4 separate regions of the Homo sapiens genome follow, and all the other regions are linked to region 4. The links come from fine-mapping of genetic effects on gene expression. A gene starts in region 4. Each other region holds a variant in brackets. All regions are shown on one strand. Distances are between the middles of the regions.

The links. PIP is the estimated chance that this variant, and not a neighbour inherited with it, causes the effect. A credible set is the group of variants that fine-mapping cannot tell apart.
Region 1: its variant is the best candidate, but not a certain one, in a credible set for the expression of CPM in monocytes after LPS (Fairfax 2014, PIP 0.89).
Region 2: its variant is the best candidate, but not a certain one, in a credible set for the expression of CPM in monocytes after LPS (Fairfax 2014, PIP 0.58).
Region 3: its variant is the best candidate, but not a certain one, in a credible set for the expression of CPM in whole blood (TOPMed, PIP 0.82).

Annotation. Positions count from the first base shown.
Region 1 is chr12:68,979,292-68,984,443 of GRCh38, reverse strand. No RefSeq gene overlaps it. Among named protein-coding and RNA genes, the nearest start is that of TODL, 26 kb to the left of the region's middle. The variant C/T (reference allele first, on the strand shown) is at 2,288.
Region 2 is chr12:68,963,222-68,968,373 of GRCh38, reverse strand. It overlaps a transcript of CPM not described here. Among named protein-coding and RNA genes, the nearest start is that of CPM, 33 kb to the right of the region's middle. The variant T/C (reference allele first, on the strand shown) is at 2,125.
Region 3 is chr12:69,004,760-69,009,911 of GRCh38, reverse strand. It overlaps TODL (transcript overexpressed in dedifferentiated liposarcoma), which reads right to left and starts at 2,253. Exons shown (of 3, transcript XR_001749099.2): 1 at 2,176-2,253. RefSeq lists an enhancer at 1,776-2,469. The variant C/T (reference allele first, on the strand shown) is at 2,305.
Region 4 is chr12:68,930,942-68,936,093 of GRCh38, reverse strand. CPM (carboxypeptidase M) reads left to right here and starts at 2,923. Exons shown (of 9, transcript NM_198320.5): 1 at 2,923-2,952; 2 at 3,254-3,416. The coding sequence starts at 3,257. RefSeq lists silencers at 2,544-2,653, 2,684-3,043.

The DNA of each region.
Region 1 (5,152 bases), 48 kb before region 4:
AGCCCTCAAGTTTCCCCCTTTGGGGAAGGTTCCCCAGGTCCCGTGATCCTGTACATGCCTAATCCTGTCACCCATTGTCATCAGCAAAAAGTACAAGACAGATTAATCCAAAGAGAATAGCAGTTAACAGCCCATTGTGCCAAATCCATTTTTAACCAAGAGGGACTTTACTGAGGGGAGGGCCTCTAACCCAATTCTCTAACCCAATACAGGTAAAATGTACTCCACTACTTACCCAAAGTCAGCCAATTGGTGCTGCAGTTACTTCCTTTGGATTAGAATAGTAACTAAGCCAAAAGGTTAGCAGATTTAATTTTTTTAATCAATTAGTCACTTAAGCTTTTTATTTGCCTTTCATAAAGTCTTCATATAAAAATACTGAAATCTTTTTACAAGCTTCTGCATATCAGTACAGATGAGACTAATTTGGAAGCCCTCATTTTCTAACACACTTCAGTGCAGTGTTGTTCATTTGGAACGTTCCACTGTAAGTTATCTTTAGTAAGATTTTGCCATTTCTTTAAGACTTCGCTGCTTATAAGGCCTAACACTTGTGCGTGTATAAGCCAGAAGGAACTCAATTCTTCAGAAATTAAGGATCTCATTTTTACCTCAAATATTGGCTTTGCTTTCAGGTTCCCTTGATCAACTTAGTCAGTGATTGATTTTTTTTCCTACCTAAGTGCACAAGAAAAATGAACCAAAGGGGTAGAACACAAAAATTCCTGTGAATTTCCAAAAGCCAAATTTTACACCCCCTGCAATATTGCCATTTACTACTGGTTTCCTTCTGACCCAGTCAGATGTAAGAAGCCTCTAGCTGGATCCAAACCAGCTAATTACTGGACTCAGTCCAGTTTCTCATCACAACTTCCAAATCCAGTTTGGATCAGAAACTTGCTCAAAGAAACTCGGAGAGCTAAAAACACAAATCCGTGGAGCTTTGGAATCTGAGAGAGAACTTACCACAATCCCCAGCTGCTCCAAGAGATCAATGGACACAATCAGTCCAGAGAGTTCCTCACTTGGTCACTCAGTGCTCCTAGGGGATGTTAGAAGCTCTACTTCGGATCCCACTTCTGACACCATCTGATAAAAGAAAAACTTCAGCTGAATTAAATTTAAAATAGTTTAACTGAGCAATGAACGATTCCTGAATTGGGCAGCCTCCTGAGCCAGAATAGGCTCAGAGACTCCAGCAGAGCCACATGGGGGAAGAAGATTTATGGAGAGAAAAGGAAAGTGACATACAGAAAAAAGAAGTGAGGTACAGAAACAGCTGGATTGGTTACAATTCGGTGTTTGCCTTATTTAAATACGGTTCAAACAATTGGCTACATTTGATTGGCCAAACCTTGATGATTGGCACAAATGTAGGCTATGGTCTATTTCTACTTCCACTTGTTATAGTTCACGTGTACAGAGATACCCTTAGGCTGAACTTAATATATGTAAGGAGGCAGCTTTGGGCTAAACTTGATTTAACTCATCTTAAACTGCAAACAACCTAGTAAGATTCCCCATTAGAACTTTCTGTTATCCACCAGCTCTGGGCTGCCCTAGAACATGTCACTTAATCCATTTTCCTCCCATGCTCCTAATTTTCCACATCCCCCCACCCCTTAATCCTTTCCTGTGAGAACAATATGGCTCTGTCTCAAATCTTTCAATTTTGCGTAACTGCACATTACTTATACTATCTTTAAGAAGGATGATTCACTTTGCAGTCAGGAAACAAATGATGCTCCAATTGCTGGGCTCTACCTTCCTTATGGGCTGCAGGGGATCAAAAATATTCAATGACTCTGCAGTCTAACCTAGCAGTTGAAGGGTTTGGTTCTGGTGTCAAGATTCCATTCTGTGACCTCATGTAAATTACTTGGCCCCTCTAAGCCTCAGCTTCTTAATTTGTAAAATGAAATGTGGACCCTGAGTAATAAAGACTGCATCTTGGGTAATAAAAATAATGCCTACCTTATGCATTTGGGGAGGGTCGTGTCAGATATTATACGACAAGGACTTCTCTAATCCCAGTGCCTAGCACAAGGTATTATAATAATAATTATTAAATCCCTCCCAATCTTAATAATTCTAAGTATTTGACAGTTTACTAATTGAACTCCAAATACTCATTTAATAAGCATCCATTTAATGACTACTATTTAATATGCACATAGCACTAAAAAATAAATAAGGAGGAAGGAAGTAAGGAAAAATAAACATCTACTGAGAGCTATCTATGTGCCAGGCACTTTACATAAATCATCTTGTTTACTCCTTCAAATAA[C/T]TTGAGAAAGCTTTGTGTCCTCACTTCTATGGATGGCACAGAGCTATGAGAGGTTATATAACTTGCCTGTAAGGCACAAATCTGAGTTGGTACCCAGGTCTGTTTCACTCAGGGGCCCTTTCTCCTCCACAAATTGCTGTGCCTCACAAGTAGAGTGTATGTCTCAAACTGACCAAACCTTAAATTCAAAAGGAAAAGGGAAGAAAAGAGAGGTCAGATGAATGGAAAGTGGAGGAGAAAGAGGGAAGGATAGGAAGGAGGATGACCGGAAGGAGAATCGGATGTTGAGGAAGAGATAATGGAACAACAGGGAGATGCCAAGCAGCTCCTCCACTTCCATCCCTTGCAGTGGTTGGTGGAGAGCCAGCCCCTTTAGCTCATCCTTATCACCTTAGGTGACGTGTCCCTGCCAAACAAACTAGTGCCAAAAGGAAATGCATCATGTCTGTGACTTCCCACAAACTCGAGCTAACCAGAGCTGATCTCACCCTCTCCTTTTGGAAGCTCCAACAAAAGCACTATAGCCTTCTAGGTAGATTCTAACTCCCTGTCTTATTTACAGTTTAATTTTGTACTGGTAATTGTCTCATGTGGGCTCATCTTATTCTCATACCCAAGCTATAAAATATTCAATGCATGCATTTTGGTTTACTCTTCTGTAAGAAGATGGTCACAGATGAAAGCACACTACAAAATTTTATAAGACTTTTCTGAGAAGAAACTGAAAAACTCTGCCCAGAACTTGGGGTAGCTACTCACAGATTACTTGTTGGGGTAGAGAGAGTTACTTAAGAGCGAATAGCATAAACTCTGGAAATATACTGCCAGATATTATGAGGTTATCCTAATAACTTCATATATCCAATATCCAATGGTCCCATGATGATGGGGGTGTCTGCTGAAGGGAATGAGCCCTTGTCATTGGGAAGAGGTCAGTTTGAGAGTAGGGAACAGAGACTCTGGAAGGAGCTTATCTGGTAGTGGTAGGAGGAATATTTTCTTTGCTCTAGATCTGGCCAATGCTTGGCAGTCTCAGGGTCATGCAATTGCCGGAAGCATTTCTGTTGGTGGAGGGTGGCTTTCCTTGTCCCTGGGCGATTACCTGTAAGAGAACCTGGGACCGTGCCAAGGAAAGGGTCTCGGGTTGGGTCCTGACTCGGCAGTGCGTCTGAATCATGCTCTGTGCCACGTGTCCTTTCATCATCAGTACAGTCTGTCCTGCATTGGATCAGGGAGGGGTCCACATCCACATCTTTGTCAGGACCATGCAGGGAAATGCTGGACCCCTTCCCTGGAGGTCAGGTGATGGTGCCAACAGAGGACAACAGGGCTCAGCAGCAGCCAGAGTACTGCCTAGGGGTGTTACCTTGTAATATGAAAAGAAGCAATATCTCCCTCTTGGTTGTCACGAGATTTAGAGGAAAGATGTGCAAAGTGACTGGAATTCATATCCTCATTCAACGTTTATTCATCTCATTACATGGTGTAGTTACTTCACGCCAAGCTCCAGGCAATAGGAATACAGCAATGAGGGAGCTGGGTCAAGTCACTGCTCTCTTAGTTTATATCCTCTTGAGAAGTGGGGACAGACAGTAAGAAGATAAACACACTGTCAGGGACTGAGATGGGGATTTGGGTGCATGTGATTTATTGAGGATGTTCTCCTCAGGAAAACCTGTAAAGGATGAAGAAATCAGGATGGGGAAGGGGAAGAAGCCAAGCAGAGGGGTGCTGTGGAAAAATCTAACCTGGGCCTGATCCCTGGGGGCCCTGAAGTGCAAATCACACCTTCAGAGTTGTCCTTGAAAGCAACAGTGGGGAGCTTTTGTACCCGTCTCTGTCAGTCATTGGCCACCCCAGGGTGTTGTAGTAGCCTCTCAGGTAAAGAGGCTCCTTAGGCAAGAGCGTTTCTTAGAAGAAGGCCATGGGTGTAAGGTGTTAGCTGCTGCGTGCCCAGGAGTGGGGCACACGGGCTGGTTATGGGTCATGCGCAGAGTCTCAACAACATCAGCTACATCTCTTCATAAGGGGAAAAGTCAGGCAGTGGGAACTTCTAGGAGAGAATGGAAATTCAGCGACAGCAGAGGGACTGTACCGTTGCTTTAGACTGCGTGGCCATGAAATGGGCAGATTCAGATTTTATAGATTTTGAGACTTACAATTTGGAGGTGCCTTTTTAAAGTAAAAGACTGTGAAATCATGAATACAAAGCTAGCACAAACATGAAAATTTATTCAAAATGAGAAGACAAAGAATTACAAATAAAAGCTAAGAAATAAGCATCACAAAATCCAGAAAAAATAATTAATATTTAATTAAAGTTAATAAAACTTTCTGACATACCTCTACAATACCTTTTCCTACATTATTTGGCCATATATATTTTGATTACCTCCTTATATGATAATGGCTTGGTATTTGCTTTTTATTAAGAGACTAGAAAGACATTTTGGTCTTTCCCTTAAAGTGGTAAACCATTTGTTGTTAATACTTCTCAAAAGTTTTTCAGCTTCACAACTTGTTATTTGGTAAAATTATGTGAATTTTGAGGATGATTATCAAGATTGGGAAACCCTCAATTAAGCTTCTTTCATATATGAGCTATAAGCTTTGAAAAGATGCCCCACAGATAGCTTCTGACTCCACACATTTCAAACTCACTTTTGCCAGGCACAGTGGCTCACACTTGTAATCCCAGTTATTAGGGAGGCTGAGGTGGGAGGATCCTTTGAGCCCAGGAGTTTGAGACCATCCTGGACAACATAGTGAGATCCTGTCTCTTCAAGCAAATTGGTCGGGGGTGGTGGCTCACGCCTGTAATCCCAGCACTTTGGGAGGCCGAGGCGGGTGTATCATCTGAGTTCA
Region 2 (5,152 bases), 32 kb before region 4:
CACCTTTCCTTATTTCATTGATGACTCTGATCCAACAGTGAACTAGTTCCAAGTATATTTCTATTTTAAATTATTAATCTACACCCTGTCACATTAGCTAACGCCAATGAAACCCAGGGAAGCTCATTGCTTTATGATCCATTAAAAGAAAAGAGCTCCACCTGCCTTCATAAACATTTGTTCTCTTTTTGATGTGCTTTTTAGGGCATACTAAATAAGAGGCCCATGATAAGACATTAAATGTTAAGCTAAGCATTGACCTAAAGTCTGAATCTGGGTTCCCAATGTGGGGAGAAGAGTTTGGGTTTAAATGTTTGACATATTACACTTGTACAACATTCTTGTAGCACTTTGACAAGTATACTAATTATATTTCTGATGGCATTATGAAAAATTTGTATTATCTGTGTTTAAGGAAATATTTGTGAATTTGAGGAGGGTAGCTCATTCTCCCCACCCCCATAACCCAGGTTTCCAAACCTTCTCTGAGGAGGTCAGAGGAATTAGAAAAGAAACCTAGGGCTGGGCACAGAGCTCACACCTGTAATCCCAGCATTTTGGGAAACTAAGATGGGCAGATTGCTTGAGCCCAGAAGTTCAAGACCAGCCTGGGCAATAAGGCAAAACTCCATCTTTACAAAAAATACAAAAATTAGCCGGGCATGGTGGTGAGTGCCTGTAGACCCAGCTATTCAGGAAGGCTGAGGCGGAAGGATCACCTGAGCCCACGGAGGTCAAAGCTACATTGAGCCATGATCATGCCACTGCACTCCAGCCTGGGTGACAGAAACCTTGTCTCAAAAAAATAAAAATAAAAAAGAAACCCATTTACTTGACAATTTGCCTGGGGATGTTTCTGCACAGCCTCAACCTTTGCTCAGCCCTGGTCCTAAGATCTCTTTTGAAGAGGTCCCATCTGAACTAAAAGTCTACTCAAGTCTTTCACTACTTAAGGTCCAGGACTTCAGCTAAGGACACCTGTTATGAGGTGAAAGTATTCATAGCTTCAACTGAAAAAAGTTCTAAGTCTTTCGGAGAAGCTCTTAAATACCAGTAGATATTAATGTTGCTCTGTTTCCTATCACAGTGACAGTCTACATGACGCTGCACCTTACTGCACCACCCCGTACTCACCCAGGGAAGCAGCAGAAGTCAGAATATTAGTCATTAGCTTCAGCAGACTTATTATTAACTTTTCTACATGGCCTTTCAGACTCAGGAGCAAATTTATGTCCAAGTTAGCTCAGTTCAAGACATAGAAGCAAAAAGCTGATTATTTGTCCTGTCTTCTCTTTCTATCTATGCTTCCAACTTCTGCTAGTCCCCTTCAACAGTCTGGCTGATAATGGTTAGGCCCCATTCATCAACTCAAATATTAAGATATGGCTGTTCACTTACCTAAGTCTATAATATGCTCCACATGGATCTCTGGCTTCAGACATCCCCTCTCTTTCTTCTTCATCCTTCTACTCCAGATGAACTACACCTTCTCTTCTTATTAATATTTAGGACAGGAGCTGTCTTATGTAGGATAGGCCTTACTTATTTCCTTTACACAAGGCAAGCAGAAGCCTCACATATGACTGAAGTCACATGTATTTCTGATTAAAGAAAATGAGGTAAAGGGAAAAGGAAGCAAAGGAACTCACAGGAACACTGGAGTTCCATAACACAGCATATTCAGTATGTTTATGAAAAGTTTATGGACTCCATTAACTCTAGCATATGTATACAAAGATTTCATTTGATGAACTTCATTGATCCATGAAGTCATATCAGCAAGAAAACTGTCCTTCAAGATCAATTCCTTCTTTGCTGGACCTTCCACTAATTCTCCTGGTTCCAAGCTACCAAGTTGCAAATGAGTTGCAATGACAAGTGAAGATCACTATTTAGCCAGCATTTGCAGATGGGGATTCTGGAACTCTCAGATAGATGAAGACACCCTTCTGAAATAATGGTCGATTATTTACTTAATGCTGGTTTAACTTGCTTTTTTAACCTGGCAGCCAAAACACAGTCTGCTGTTGGTAACAATGGAGAAATTTTATTCAGTAGAATTCCTTTTAGAGAGAGCACTGCACTTGTTTCAAATTAATGTCTTGATAAGACATTTTGGGAGTA[T/C]TTTTAAAAAGCCTAACAACCCAAGTGTCCATCAATGGATGAATGGATAAACAAAATGTGGTGAAGGGAACCAGAATATGACACCCCAAAATATGCCACTTTGGCATAAGAATTATTTTGAGCTGAAGACAATCAAGAAACAGCAGACAGAAAACAAAAAACAAACAAACAAACAAACAAAAACTCTCTGCCCTCCCCCTATCTGGCTAAAAGCAGGACATGACTTTCCATTTTTAATGGAAAAACCAAAGTCTGCAAAACAGTTTAAAGAGATTTTTCAGAGCCAACATGAAGGGCCATGACCTGGAGAAAAACAACCTTAAGTGGTCTTGAGAAAGTGCGCTCATGGCCAGGCACAGTGGCTCACACCTGTAATCTCAGCACTTTGGGAGGCCAAAGCAGGTGGATCACTTGAGGTGAGGAGTTCAAGACCAGCCTGGCAAACATGGTGAAACACTGTCTATACTAAAAATGCAAAAATTAGTTGGGCATGGTGGTGGGCACCTGTAGTCCCAGCTACTCGGGAGGCTGAGGCATGAGAATCACTTGAACCCCGGAGGTAGAGGCTGCAGTGAGCCGAGATCATTCCACAGCACTCCAGCCTGGGCAACAGAGGGAGACTATGTCAAAAAAAAAAAAAAAAAAATCAGAGAAAGTGTGTCCAAAGCAGTCGGGTTATAGTTTGGTTGTATACATTTCAAGGAGATAGGAATTACAGCTAAAGACATAAATCACTTTATGGAAGACAATATCGGTTCAGCCCAAAAAGGCAGGACATCCTGAGGTGGGGAGAAGAGCACTTACAAGTCATAGGTGGGTTTTGGGGATTCTTTAGTTGGAAATTGGTTGAAAAAATTAAGCTTTGTCTAAAGATTTGAAGTCGGTAGAAAGGAATGTTTAAGTTAAGGAGGTTCATTACCCAATACACTGGGTCAGAGTGACCTGTAGGGATGTGACTTAACCCTTGTCTGGCATGGTCATAGGTCCTGTTTACAATTTGGTATCTTACTGTCACAAAGAGTCTGTTTTGTCAGTCTTATGATCTCTATTTTAACATTAATACTGGTCAGTTGTGCCTAAACTCCAGAAGGGAGGGAGTATAAAAAAGTGTGTTCAACCTCACTTGCTGTCATGGTTGGAAATTCAGTTCTTAAGGTTTTTTGTGTCTCCATGGCCAAGAAGGATCTGTTCAGTCAGTGTGGGCTTAGGATTTTATTTTTAGGTTATGCGTTTATAAAGGTGTCCTCTCCCTTGCCAAGGAAGAGAACAACTCTTAATGCAATCACCTGATGGATTTGGTCTACCCTCTGCACAGACAAATCCAATTTACTGAGATTGTGGTATTGCAGTAAAGAAAGAGTTTAATTAACACTAGGCTGGCCACATGGAAGATGGAGTTATTACTCAAATCAGTCTTCCTGAAGGCTTGGAGGTTAGGGTTTCTTAAGGATACCTTGGTGGGTAGGGGACTAGGGAATACGTGTTGCTGACTGACTGAGGATACAATCATAGGGTTGTGGAAGATGGTCCTCATGCACTGAGTCTGCCTCTGGGTGGGGGCCATGGGACCGGCTGAGTCATGAGTCAGTAGCGTCGGTCAGTGGCCAAAATGCAAAAGTCTGAAAAACATCTCAAAAGATCAATCTTAAGTTCTACAATCATAATGTTATCTATAGGAGCAATAGGGGAAGTCACAAATCTTGTGACCTCTGGCCACATGACTCCTGAGTAGTAAGGGATTATAGAAACTATATTTTAGCAGAATTTAGGCCACTCCCATAGTTCTAATCTTGCGGTCTTTCATCAGTTTTACAAAGGTGGTTTCAGCTCCTGAACAAGGAGGGGATCAGTTTTAGGGAGGGATTGTCATCCTTGCTTCCACATTAAACTAGAAACTAAATCCCTTCCATGGTTAGCTTCCTATGCCCAGGAATGCGTGAAGACAGCCAGTCTGTGAGGCTAGAAGCAAGATGGAGTTGGTCATGTTAGACTCCTCTTGCTGTCATAATCTTCGCAAAGGTGGTTTCATTAATCATCGGGACTCTTCATCACTGGAGATGACTCTAGATTCTTTTCAGCCCAAAGACCTGGAGAGGAATGTATATAACAAACCTTACTAAACCACCCTTTTCTTCTATTTATTTCCCTATATATTTCCTTCCCACAAGTTACCACCATTAGGAATCCCCCTTTTCCTTTGTCTTGTCAATCTCTGCAATGTATCAAATGTATCACTGTTTGTCAAAATGCTGTGTCACCTCTTAGGTCTAACTGCTTCTCTGCCCCTTCACTTTTCTAGGAAGGCCCCTGTATATATACATGATAAACCTTTCCTCCTGCTAATCTGTCTTTTGTCAGTCTAATTTGCAGGGCCCCAGATACTGAACCTAAGAAGGTAAAGGAAAACATTTTTTTCTTCCCCCACAGTGGTATATGCATACCATGAACTATTATTACTTAGCATTTCAAAGGATGGAAATTCTGACATATGCTATACTATGCATGAACCTTGTGGACATTATGCTAAGTGAAATAAGCCAGTTACAATAAGATGAATACTATAAAATTCCACTGGTGGGAGTGTCTAAAATAGTCAAATTTATAGGGACAGAAAGTAGAATGGTGGTTGTCAGGCACTAGGGGGATGGGGAAATGAGAAGTTGTGTAATAGCCATAGAAGTTCAGTTTTGCAAGGCGAGAATGTTCTGGAGATTAGTTATCTAGGGGCCAAGGGAAAAGTTCCCCTTCTCCCTATGAAGTTTCACTGAAAAATCAACTCACAAAAGGCAGACTAGTAGGAGAAATAACATACAAATGCATTTAATGTGTACATGGGAACCTTCAGAATGAAGACAGAGGAAAGTGCACATTTTTATGCTTAGGTTCAAAAAGTATGTAGAGCTGTTTAGAAATATGACTGGACAAAAGGGTATGATGTAACTTTAACAGATGGAGTGAGGAAACCCAGCAAGGCCTGTCTGTCTAGATTCTTCTTGGCCTCTCTGAGCAGCATTTCTTCCTTCTGCGT
Region 3 (5,152 bases), 74 kb before region 4:
GAAACGCCTACCAGAGCTATTTGTTAATTAGGTCTAAGCAACTTGATAAATATTTATGACCTAACAACTTAGTCTGAAAAACTGTATATAAAAATTGAAATAAAATAATTTTATTTCATTCTTAAATAATTAAAGTTACCTATTAATGGGATGCATTTTCCTGTTGAACACTGCATAACTTCTGTCAAACTAAAAGGAAGACGCTGAGGCACAAAATATAATTTAAAGAGTTTACTTGAGTGAAAGTGAGGACAGCTGCCCCAGAGATTCAGACCCTAGGAACCTGGAATACAAGCTTCCTTTGGACTTTGTTAATAAGCAGGTTTTTAAAGGCAAAAAAAAAAAAAAAAAAAAAGGAACAGGGAGTAAGCTGATACAAAGTTATTTATCAGGAATTCTCATTAGTTTACAGAAATAACATTGATTAGTGATAGGCTATACATTGTTCAGCTATAGGGTATGGGTTGTATTGTCTGATGCAACATTATTAGGTTAATTTATAGATACTTGTAGCAATAGCAAGCAATTTCAAGAGATGAATATGTAGCTCAAAGGAGGCGATAGAATGTGATTGCTGTTTGATTTTAATGTCTCTCTGGGCTTGGTAATTTAAAAGGATTTGGATTCCTCAGATAAAAGTTCTTCTCGCCTCTTCTCTTCTCTTAGCTGCTGCTGCTTCTTATTCTTCTTCTTCTTCCTCTTCTTCTTCTTCTCCTTCTGCTTCTTTATCTTCTTCTTTCCTCTCTCTTTCTCTCTCTCTTTTTCTCTCTCTCTCATTTCTTTGTTTTGTTTTGAAACAGGGTCTTGCTCTGCTGAAATGCAGTGGCATGATTATAGCCCACTGCAGCCTCCAACTCCTGGGCTCAAGCCATCCTCCCACCTCAGCCTCCAGAGTAGCCGGGACTACCACTGTACACCACTACACTCAGCTAATTTTTATTTTTATTTTTGTAGAGACAAGGTCTTCCTCTGTGTTTCCCAGGCTGGTCCCAGATTCCCAGGTTCAAGCAATCTTCCTGCCACGATCTCCCAAAATGCTAGGATTACTGGAGTAAGCCTCCATGCCCAGCCTCTTTTCTCACTTCTCAAGCCTTGGAATTAGACTGGACACCACCACCCTCATTTCCTGTTTCATGTTTCTGCACGTAGTGCCACAGGATAGGCACAGTAGACCCAGCTTCACAAGTAATATGACATAATCAAAAGAAATGTTGAAATGTTGCACAATCTAATGGTGACGCTGTCAACTACCGTGAGCTAATAGTTTGTGTGGTACCTGAATGGGTGTCAGGTATCACTGTGCTTTCCTTACAATTCTAAAATATCCAGTGGCACCCCAGGGCACCTTGGTACACAGCCTGGAAACCATGGGCTTGGAAGGCACTTCATCCATTTCATATTAGTACCTGTTTTCTCTAAAAATAAAAAACCACTTTATATTTTCCTACTGGACATAGTCCCTCTATTAATGAAGCATCCTCCATGAGAAAAATACAAAAAGGCCATTAAAAGTTCAATGAAAGTTATGAAAAAAAGAAAAAAAAATGAACTCAGGAAGTCTTCGAAAATGAGACAAGGCACCATGATCTTACTAAATCATCCAACATATGTCAAAATGTGTAATAAAACACATTTTTCCTTTGAATGCTAGCCAACTTCTGTTGTTTGCTTTGATTGACAGCTTGGATAGACTGGAACAGCAGGGAGCTGGTGAAACTACACTCCCAGGACAAAACAGGTTTCTACATTTTGTTTTGTTTTGTTTTGTTTTGTTTTGAATTCTTTGAAAACCAAGGAAGAAAGGAGAGGGAGCAGGACAAAGAGAAGAAGGCAAGAAGAGATCATCGCTGTCCTCACTTACACAGCTATTTTTTCCATTCAATTATACATTCGGCAAATATTTATATTCTCTTGCCTAGAGGCAATCATATTTGCATCAAATACTTGAATGCAGGATGTTAAAGAAACAACAGGCTGGTCAGAGTCCGGGCTACAAAGGCTTACAAGATCCTTAGGCTTGCACTAAGCACCTTTCCTCTGCTGCCTTCTGCCCCCGCTTTGGTGAGGTGACATTGTCCAGGCCTGCTCAATTCTTTCCTTTGTTGCACCCTAAGCACCTTCGCACCCCAATCTCTAGGTCCAGCAGGACCAGAACAAGGGAAAACAAAGCCTCACCGCAGGACAGTGTAGTTCAGGGCATGCAGAGCTCTTAAATCTTCAGTCATTCAGAAAGAAGGGACTGTTGCTCTTCACCCAGGAAGAATCTTAATTATCCAAATGCATAGGGGCCCTCATGGGTGGTTC[C/T]TTAAAATCTATGTGAGTCATACAATCAAAAAAAAGAAAAAGCAGATCCTGAAATCCGTGAGTAATAGAGCACAGTTTCAGAAGCAGGGGTACATTTTTTTTGCATTTGCTTCCAGATTTCTGAACTTAGGTTTCACTCTATAGAAATCTGAGCTGGTGGTAAAAGGAGTAAAAATGAATGTGTTATGAGCCCCTTGGTTCATAATGGGCATTTTCTTGTTGCCTCGCCACGGAACAAGGAGCAGCAGTAAGATCTTGTTCTCATCTCACAAAGCAGCTGCGCTGACACTTCAAGCAGCTGGCTCTAATGTCAGCAACTGACGTTTACCGTTGATCATTTCACCAGCTAAGTTAAACACACCAGGCTTGCTCATAAGTGCTGGCCATGAAGAAAGTGCTCGGAAGGCAAACAGCCAGTGAAAAATCCAGCCCCTCAGCACACACAGGAGAAAGTTTCCCTTTTTATAAACTATCTAAAAAGGGGAAAAGGGAGAGGCATCATACTTTAAATTATGAATTAGCTATTTCATGCTGCAGCCAAAGCACTTCTCTGTTGGAGTGAGCATATCCCTGTAATGGCTTTTTAAAGGATGTTTGCAAAGTTAAAAGTCTACAATATGAAAGATTTAACTCATTTGCACCATCATTAAGGAATGAATTACAGTCATGACATTTAAGAGTTGACTGTGTTGTTGTTATATGACAAAGAAACATCCTTTGAGCATTTCCCCAGAGCCTAGGCAGGATCTGAATTTCAGGAACCAACAAGGACCAAGTAAGTGCAATTACTGAAGGTATATAAAATCAAAACACCTGCCCCAAAACTTTGGTTTGACTTTAGGAGCTGTAAATTTCCAAAGCCAAACTGAAAAAAAGAATTGCTAGCCCCAACCACATCATTAAATGAGCCTAGCAATGAGGCACTTGGAGGAATCACAACCGTAAACCAAAAGTATCTGCGACAGATCTCAAAGAACTTAGAGATTTTTTTGGCTAAGGTTAAGGATGCACCCATGATACAGCCTCCTGTGACCTCCTGACGCAGGAGGTCCTGATGTGCCCAAGGTGGTTGAGCCACAACTTGGTTTTATACATTTTAGGGAGACATAAGGCAAGACATCAATCATCCCATGTAAAATGTACATTCATTCAGTCTAGAAAGGTGGGACAACTGGAAGCACCTGGAGATGGGGTGGCTGCTTCCAGGTCATAGGAGGATTTAAAGATTTTCTGGGCAATTAGTTGAAAGAGTAATTATCAATAGAAAGGACGGAAGGAATGTCTGGGTTATGATAAGGGGTTGTGGACACCAAAGATTTATCATGCAGATGAAGCCTCCAGGTAGCAGGCTTCAGAGAGCTTGTAAATGTTTCTTATCAGACTTAAAGAGTCTGTTCTGTCAGTAATTCCAAAAAGGAAGAGGGTATAATGAGGCATGTCTGGCTCCCACTTTCCATAATGGCCTGAACTTGTTTTTTCAGGTTAACTTTGGGATGCCCTTGCCGAGAGGAGGAGTCCATTCAGAGGGTTGGAGGGCTTAGAATTTTATTTTTGGGTTACACAACTCTACCATGGGAGAAAATTTGGAGGTGGACCTCAGACATCCAATGGAATCTAGTTTAGACCTGGGTAAGAAAGATAGTTTAGGAACAAGGAAAATGGAAAAATATAGGTTCCATGGCTTCAAATTCCACCAAAGAAGAGAAACAAGAAAGGAATACATAGAACATTTATAATCTAAACCATACAGAACTCTGATAGTGTCTGAAACGTTGTGGAGGAAGTCAGGAACCCCAGGTGTTTCTTTCAGGGCCAAATAGATCGTGACCCTGAGCAACTGCCCAGCTACAGACTGGGAAAGAAAGGGATGAGTGGAATCCTTGGATCTGGGGTCTCAAGTGCAGATTCTGCTAACAATAGCAATGATAGCAACGTGCAAATTTTTTCCTCCCTTATGGCCTTTGGGCTTGCTCTTCCTTCTACCTATAACCTCCCTGATCCTCATGTGCTGGCTAACTCTCCCCATTCACAACCCTGCCCGTGTCATAAGACTTTCCCACCCATCAGTCACTCTCGGCCACATCACTCTGCTCAAATTCCTTCACAACTCTTACTACCACCTGAATTTACCGTATTTATTATCCGTGTATTTGTTAATGGTCTGTCTCCCTAGTGGGGTAAGTGTTTAACAACTGGCTGTGGGAGAAAAGGAATGTTAGTAAATATATGTAGCACACAACTTCCAAGTAATAATCAACTATACAATACCCTTTATTGTAAATTCCATGTGGTCAGTTGAATCTCACTGAATGCCTTTGTTGATTTTTGCCAAACTCTTGTGTCTGTGACTGCAACTGTGGCTGCCGTTCAACCATGATTTGACAAATGGAGCTGCATCCCTATCTGCTAACTCTTTTCTCCATAAAAGTATTGCCATTTGATCTGATGTCATCTGCTGTTAAACTATTTCCCACCCTTGTACGAATTCTAGTCCCTAAATTGAAACCTCTTTCAGCTTCAGCCATGTTGTTTTCAACAATGCTAGCTATCATTTTTGTATAGTTGTAAGGACTGGAACAGTGTTTAATAAGAGCTTGCAAAATTTTTGAAAATATAACAATCTGCTTTCATGGGTCAACATGAGCCCTGTGCCTCTCCAGCTTGGATGGTAGTAAGTTTTATGAGAGGACAAAGGGCACCTGGCACATATCAAATATATACTGACTCTTACTTCATAAAAAACATACTAACATCAGTTGGGTGTGGTGTTTCACGCCTGTAATCCCAGCACTTTGGGAGGCCGAGGCAGGCAGATCACTTGAGGTCAGGAGTTCCAAATCAGCCTGGC
Region 4 (5,152 bases):
CACTCAGTCCTCTGTACCCCCTACCTCCATTCTCTGACTCCTTCCTGAAGTTGCCTCCCTTCCTACCTAGTGTGAACCCCAATGGCAGCAATTTCAACTATAGCTCATCTCTGTTTTTCCAGAACAACAATCCTGGCAATCTCCATTCCAGTATTGATGAAGCCACCATTTCTTCCAGTCTCCAGCCACAGCACCCTGCAGGAAATCAGATAGTGTCCACGTACTTCTCTTAAAAAGATAGGATTTCTAAGGTACATCAGCAAGCCTTCACTTTGTTCCCACCCAGTTCCCTTTCCCATTCCTAGAGTAACTTTGCCTAAATTTAATCTTCTCAAGCTCCAGTCCCCCTCCTCAGACCTCTTAGTCAATGAACAACAATGAAAGGGAAACGTCTTCAACCCTTCCAGTGGAAATAACATTTAGCATAGTGACTACTGCACAATTAAAAAAAAAAAAACCTACTCAAAGACTCTACAATGTCATACTAAGACTTCCAACTCTTAGGCCAGGCAAGGTGGCTCACTCATGTAATCCCAGCACTTTGGGAGGCTGAGGCAGAAGGATCACTTGAGGCCAGGAGTTCAAGACTAGCCTGGCCAACATGGTGAAACCTGGTCTCTATTAAAAATGCAGAAGTTAGGCATGTGTGGTGTAAAAATACAAAAGTTACGTAGGTGTGGCGATGCGTGCCTGTAATCCCAGGTACGTTAGAGGCTGAAACACAAGAATCGCTTGAACCTGGAAGGCAGAGGCTGCAGTGAGCTGAGATTGCACCACTGCACTCAAGCCTGGGCAACAGAGTGAGACTGTATCTCAAAACAAACAAACAAACAAACAAACAAACAAACAATAAAACAACTTCTCTTTAAGAAAAAAAAAAAGATGGCCAGGCACGGTGGCTCACGCCTGTAATCCCAGCGATCTGGGAGGCCGAGGCAGGCAGATCGCCCGAGGTCGGGAGTTCCAGACCAGCCTGGCCAACATGGTGAAACCCCGTCTCTACTAAAAATACAAAAATTAGCCGGGCCTGGTGGCAGGTGCCTGTAATCCGAGCTACTCGGTAGGCTGAGGCAGGAGAATTGCTTGAACCTGAGAGGAGGTTGCAGTGAGCCGAGATCATGCCATTGCACTCCAGACTGGGCAACAGAATTGAGACTCCATCTCAAAAAATAAAGAAAGAAATAAAAAATTAAAAAAAAAATTCCAACTCTTGGAAAATTCCCTTTAAAGAGTTACGAATTAAGCTGGTTTATTTATGTAATAAACGCTTCGCACAGTTCTTACAATGTGCCTGCCAACCTTATTTAGGTAGGTACAATTAAGACTTCCACTTTACACACCAGAAAATAAGGCACAGAGTCGACACAGCCACTGAGTGTCAGAGCAAGAATTGGCACTCATCCCGTGAGCGCCTCAGTTCTTTTTTTTTCTTTATATATACTTTAAGTTCTAGGGCACATGTGCACAACTGTGGCACATATACACCACGGAATACTATGCAGCCATAAAAAAGGATGAGTTCATGTCCTTTGTACGGACATGGATGAAGCTGGAAACCATCATTCTCAGCAAACTATCGCAAGGGCAGAGCGCCTCAGTTCTTAAACCACTCTTCTATGCTGCGGCAGAATCACTGGAAGTCTCAGGGAGTCCTGAGTGCGCAATTCTAGGAAAAGTATCTATATCTGTAAGAAAGAAGGGGCAGGGAATCTAACGGTTCTCAGCTCTTGAAGGCACATTAGATTCATTCAAGGTCCTCTCTAAAAATACACTTTCTTGGGCCTCCACGAGAAAAATTCTATTCAATTAGTCGTGGGCTTGCATCCGTATTTTTAGTCTGTAAAAGTGGAATGTTATCTCAAATCAGTGGTTTTCAAACTTTTTATATTCTGCGGACCTTGACACGGGCCCCCAATACCCTGACACGGTTACTTACAATCCGGGAGAGAGTGGGAGAAAGGGGGAGAGAGGGAAGGGGAGAGGGGGAGGGGAGAGAGAGAGAATGAATGAGAATGAATCTTTTAGAGAGGTAGAGGGGGTTGGCCCGTGCCACAAACCACCTCTCAGGTTTGAGTGAAGCCTTCGTTCTCTCTCGTGCAGAGACCATGCCATCCTTCCAGAAAGGAGCATTTTAGGACGTTTTAGGACGAGAGACCTGTAATTGGCCTAAGACTCAGGTGCAGGTGGAGGAAGCATCGGATTTACAACAGTGGTCCTGCCTTCTTCGATGTGACTTCCAGTTTTAAATTCAATTCTAATTTACACAAATCCCACCCACTATGTAAACTTGTTGGAAAATGTCCTGCACTCTGCACTTCGTGGCATTTAAAACTTCCACACACGCGCGCGTTCTTTCTCGAAGCCCCGTGATTGCTTAGCCTCGCTGGGCAGCTTGGCACTGCTGGGAGCTTGGCTCGCCCTGCCGGGGCCGACGCCGCCCGTCCCGCAGGAGCCCGCGCGGGGCTCAGGGCACTCAGGACTCCGCATGCGTCCCGGCTCCAGGTGGGCCCCGGCACCGCCAACCGCAGGAAACCCGCCGAGCCCTAAACGTCTCCCAAGCGGCTGCAGTCTGCGACAGAGAGTGTCCCTCGGTGGAGCGCCCTGTGGCTGCCCAGGCTACAGCCGTGGCCGAGGCGAGGACACACTTCTGACCTGGGGCTCCAGCAAAGACTGTCCGCGAGCGGCGACTCCATGCCCGCAGCCCTCCGCCCAGCTCAGCCGCCCGGCCGCGGGCACCAGCAGCCGCGCCACGAAAGGGCGCACCGCGCGGGCGCCGTCTCTCCTAGGTGCGAAGGCGGCTGAGGCCCCGCCCGGGAGGCACCCGCGCGGCTCCGGAGTGGGCCGGAGGGACGTCCGGGGGCGGGGCCCGGGCGCGCCCGCCCTCTGACCGGGCTATAACACCCGGCCCCGCCGGGCGGCCGCGGGTGGGTAGAGGTGCGCGCCTGGGACCTGGTGAGGCTGGGGGTGCGCGGGGCCGGGCGCAGCTGTGGCAGCTGCCGGACGGCGGAGGCGCCAGGAGGAGGAGGAGAGGGAGGCGCGGGCGGCTGGGTCGAGGGCACCGAGGCTGCCCGTGCTCCCGGTCTCTGGTTGCACGGCTCACTCCCGAAGGTGTTGCTTCCAGCTTTTGCCTCCTTAGGAGGCAGGGAGCGTCAGTGTCGGGAGACCCTGAGACCGGAGTACCGAGACGTAGCTGGTGATGCCCCCGCCTGCCCTCATGTGTTCTCAGGTTCTTCTTATTTTTATTCATCTCTAGAACATGGACTTCCCGTGCCTCTGGCTAGGGCTGTTGCTGCCTTTGGTAGCTGCGCTGGATTTCAACTACCACCGCCAGGAAGGGATGGAAGCGTTTTTGAAGACTGTTGCCCAAAACTACAGTTCTGTCACTCACTTACACAGTATTGGGAAATCTGTGAAAGGTAGGGTCCGTCTCGTGAACACTTTGCCAAACCCTCAGTCCTCCCTTTCAGTATTCATTAAATATGCCCCAGCTTCCTGTCTGCTCTTCCACGCACCTACTCTGAGTGGCACAGAACAAGTCAACCGGTACCGTGCGTGTTGGTTGTTTTCTGCTTTTGTTGGGAGGAATAGTAGGAAGAACTGAATTTTACTGGACTTGTCCATTGTAATTCAGTGTCACTGAGTCCTTTCCATTATTGGAGTTCTTCTGTCTTTTTGGATCTTGCAGACATTGGTTATTTGGGATGTATGTTTTAGTTCCTTTTCAAGATAAACTCCCAAGTAAGTCCGTTTATCCGTTTCAGTTCCCCTTTGTGTGGGCTTCTTTATATATGACTTGGACTGTTAATGTCATTTCTTCATGTCTCTTTTAAACTGAAATAATGCAGTTTTGTTGGTAAGATTTCTGTGTCATCTGTAGTTAGCCTTTTATTTAAAGTTATGCAAAACTATCATTTCTGCAAGTTTCTTTTAATCTAAGTAGTACAGTTCTGTTGGTTAGATTTGTGTCGTGTATAATTAGCCCTATGGCTTAAAGTTATGCAAAAAAGTGGTTCTATGATTAAAGGCTGTTTTTAAAATGTATCCATTTGAAGAAGACAATGCTAGATAATGAATATATATTAGTAGTGATTGAAACTCTTCCCAGCATTTTCATATTTATCATTAATAATTTATTGTTCTAAGTTAGAAACTACATAAAGTTATTTTCATTTTTATAGACAGCAAGTTTGAATCAGATAAATTAAATAATTTGTTCAAGGTCTCCCAGATGGTGAATTTTATAGCCAGGACTGGCACCCATCCGGCCAAGGCAAATAATTTGATCAGATATCGTTATTTCATCTTTCTTTCTTTCTTTCTTTCTTTCTTTTTTTTTTTTTTTTTTTTTTGGTCAGAGTCTCGCTCTGTTGCCCAGGCTGGAGTGCAGTGGCGTGATCTCGGCTCACTGCAACCTCCGGCTTCCTGAGTTCAAGCAATTCTCCTGCCTCAGTCTCCCGAGTAGCTGGGATTACAGGAATGCGCCACCACAGCTGGCTAATTTTTTTGTATTTTTAGTAGAGATGGGGTTTCACCATATTGGCCAGGCTGGTCTCAAACTCCTGACCTTGTGATCCTCCTGCTTCGGCCTCCCAAAGTGCTAGGATTACAGGTATGAGCCACCGTGCCCGGCCGAGATACCATTATTACTTAATCATCTTTTATTATCCTGATGTTCCCAAAGAGGTTACCAGAAAACTTAGTCCTTAAATCAAAAGTTTCATAAATTTTATGCAATTTGGATCTCAACTTTTTGTAAGGTGTGTTCAAACTCTACCTTGATTTTAGCTCTGAACTTTTGAGTCAATTGAGAGTCTCATAATTACCATATTCTTCATCATTTTTCAAAAAAATCAAGGCTATGGCTTCTATATTAAAGAAAAAGTATTATATAAATGTATTTATGTGCAATGCGAAGTCAATATCCTGGGCTGTGTGTAATAGTAACTTTGTTTTTAAACAGCATTGCCAAAGAGATGGTGCCAGAATTACTCTATATTGCTCTATAATCCAAAATTATAGAGGTTGGGTGTGTGAGAAATCATATCTTGAATCAGCATACGTATTCAGCCTTCTGAAATCATTTTTCCCTAGGGCTAGAGTAGAGCAATTTAAAAAGATCTAGGAATACTAATTATATTAATTAAAAATATAT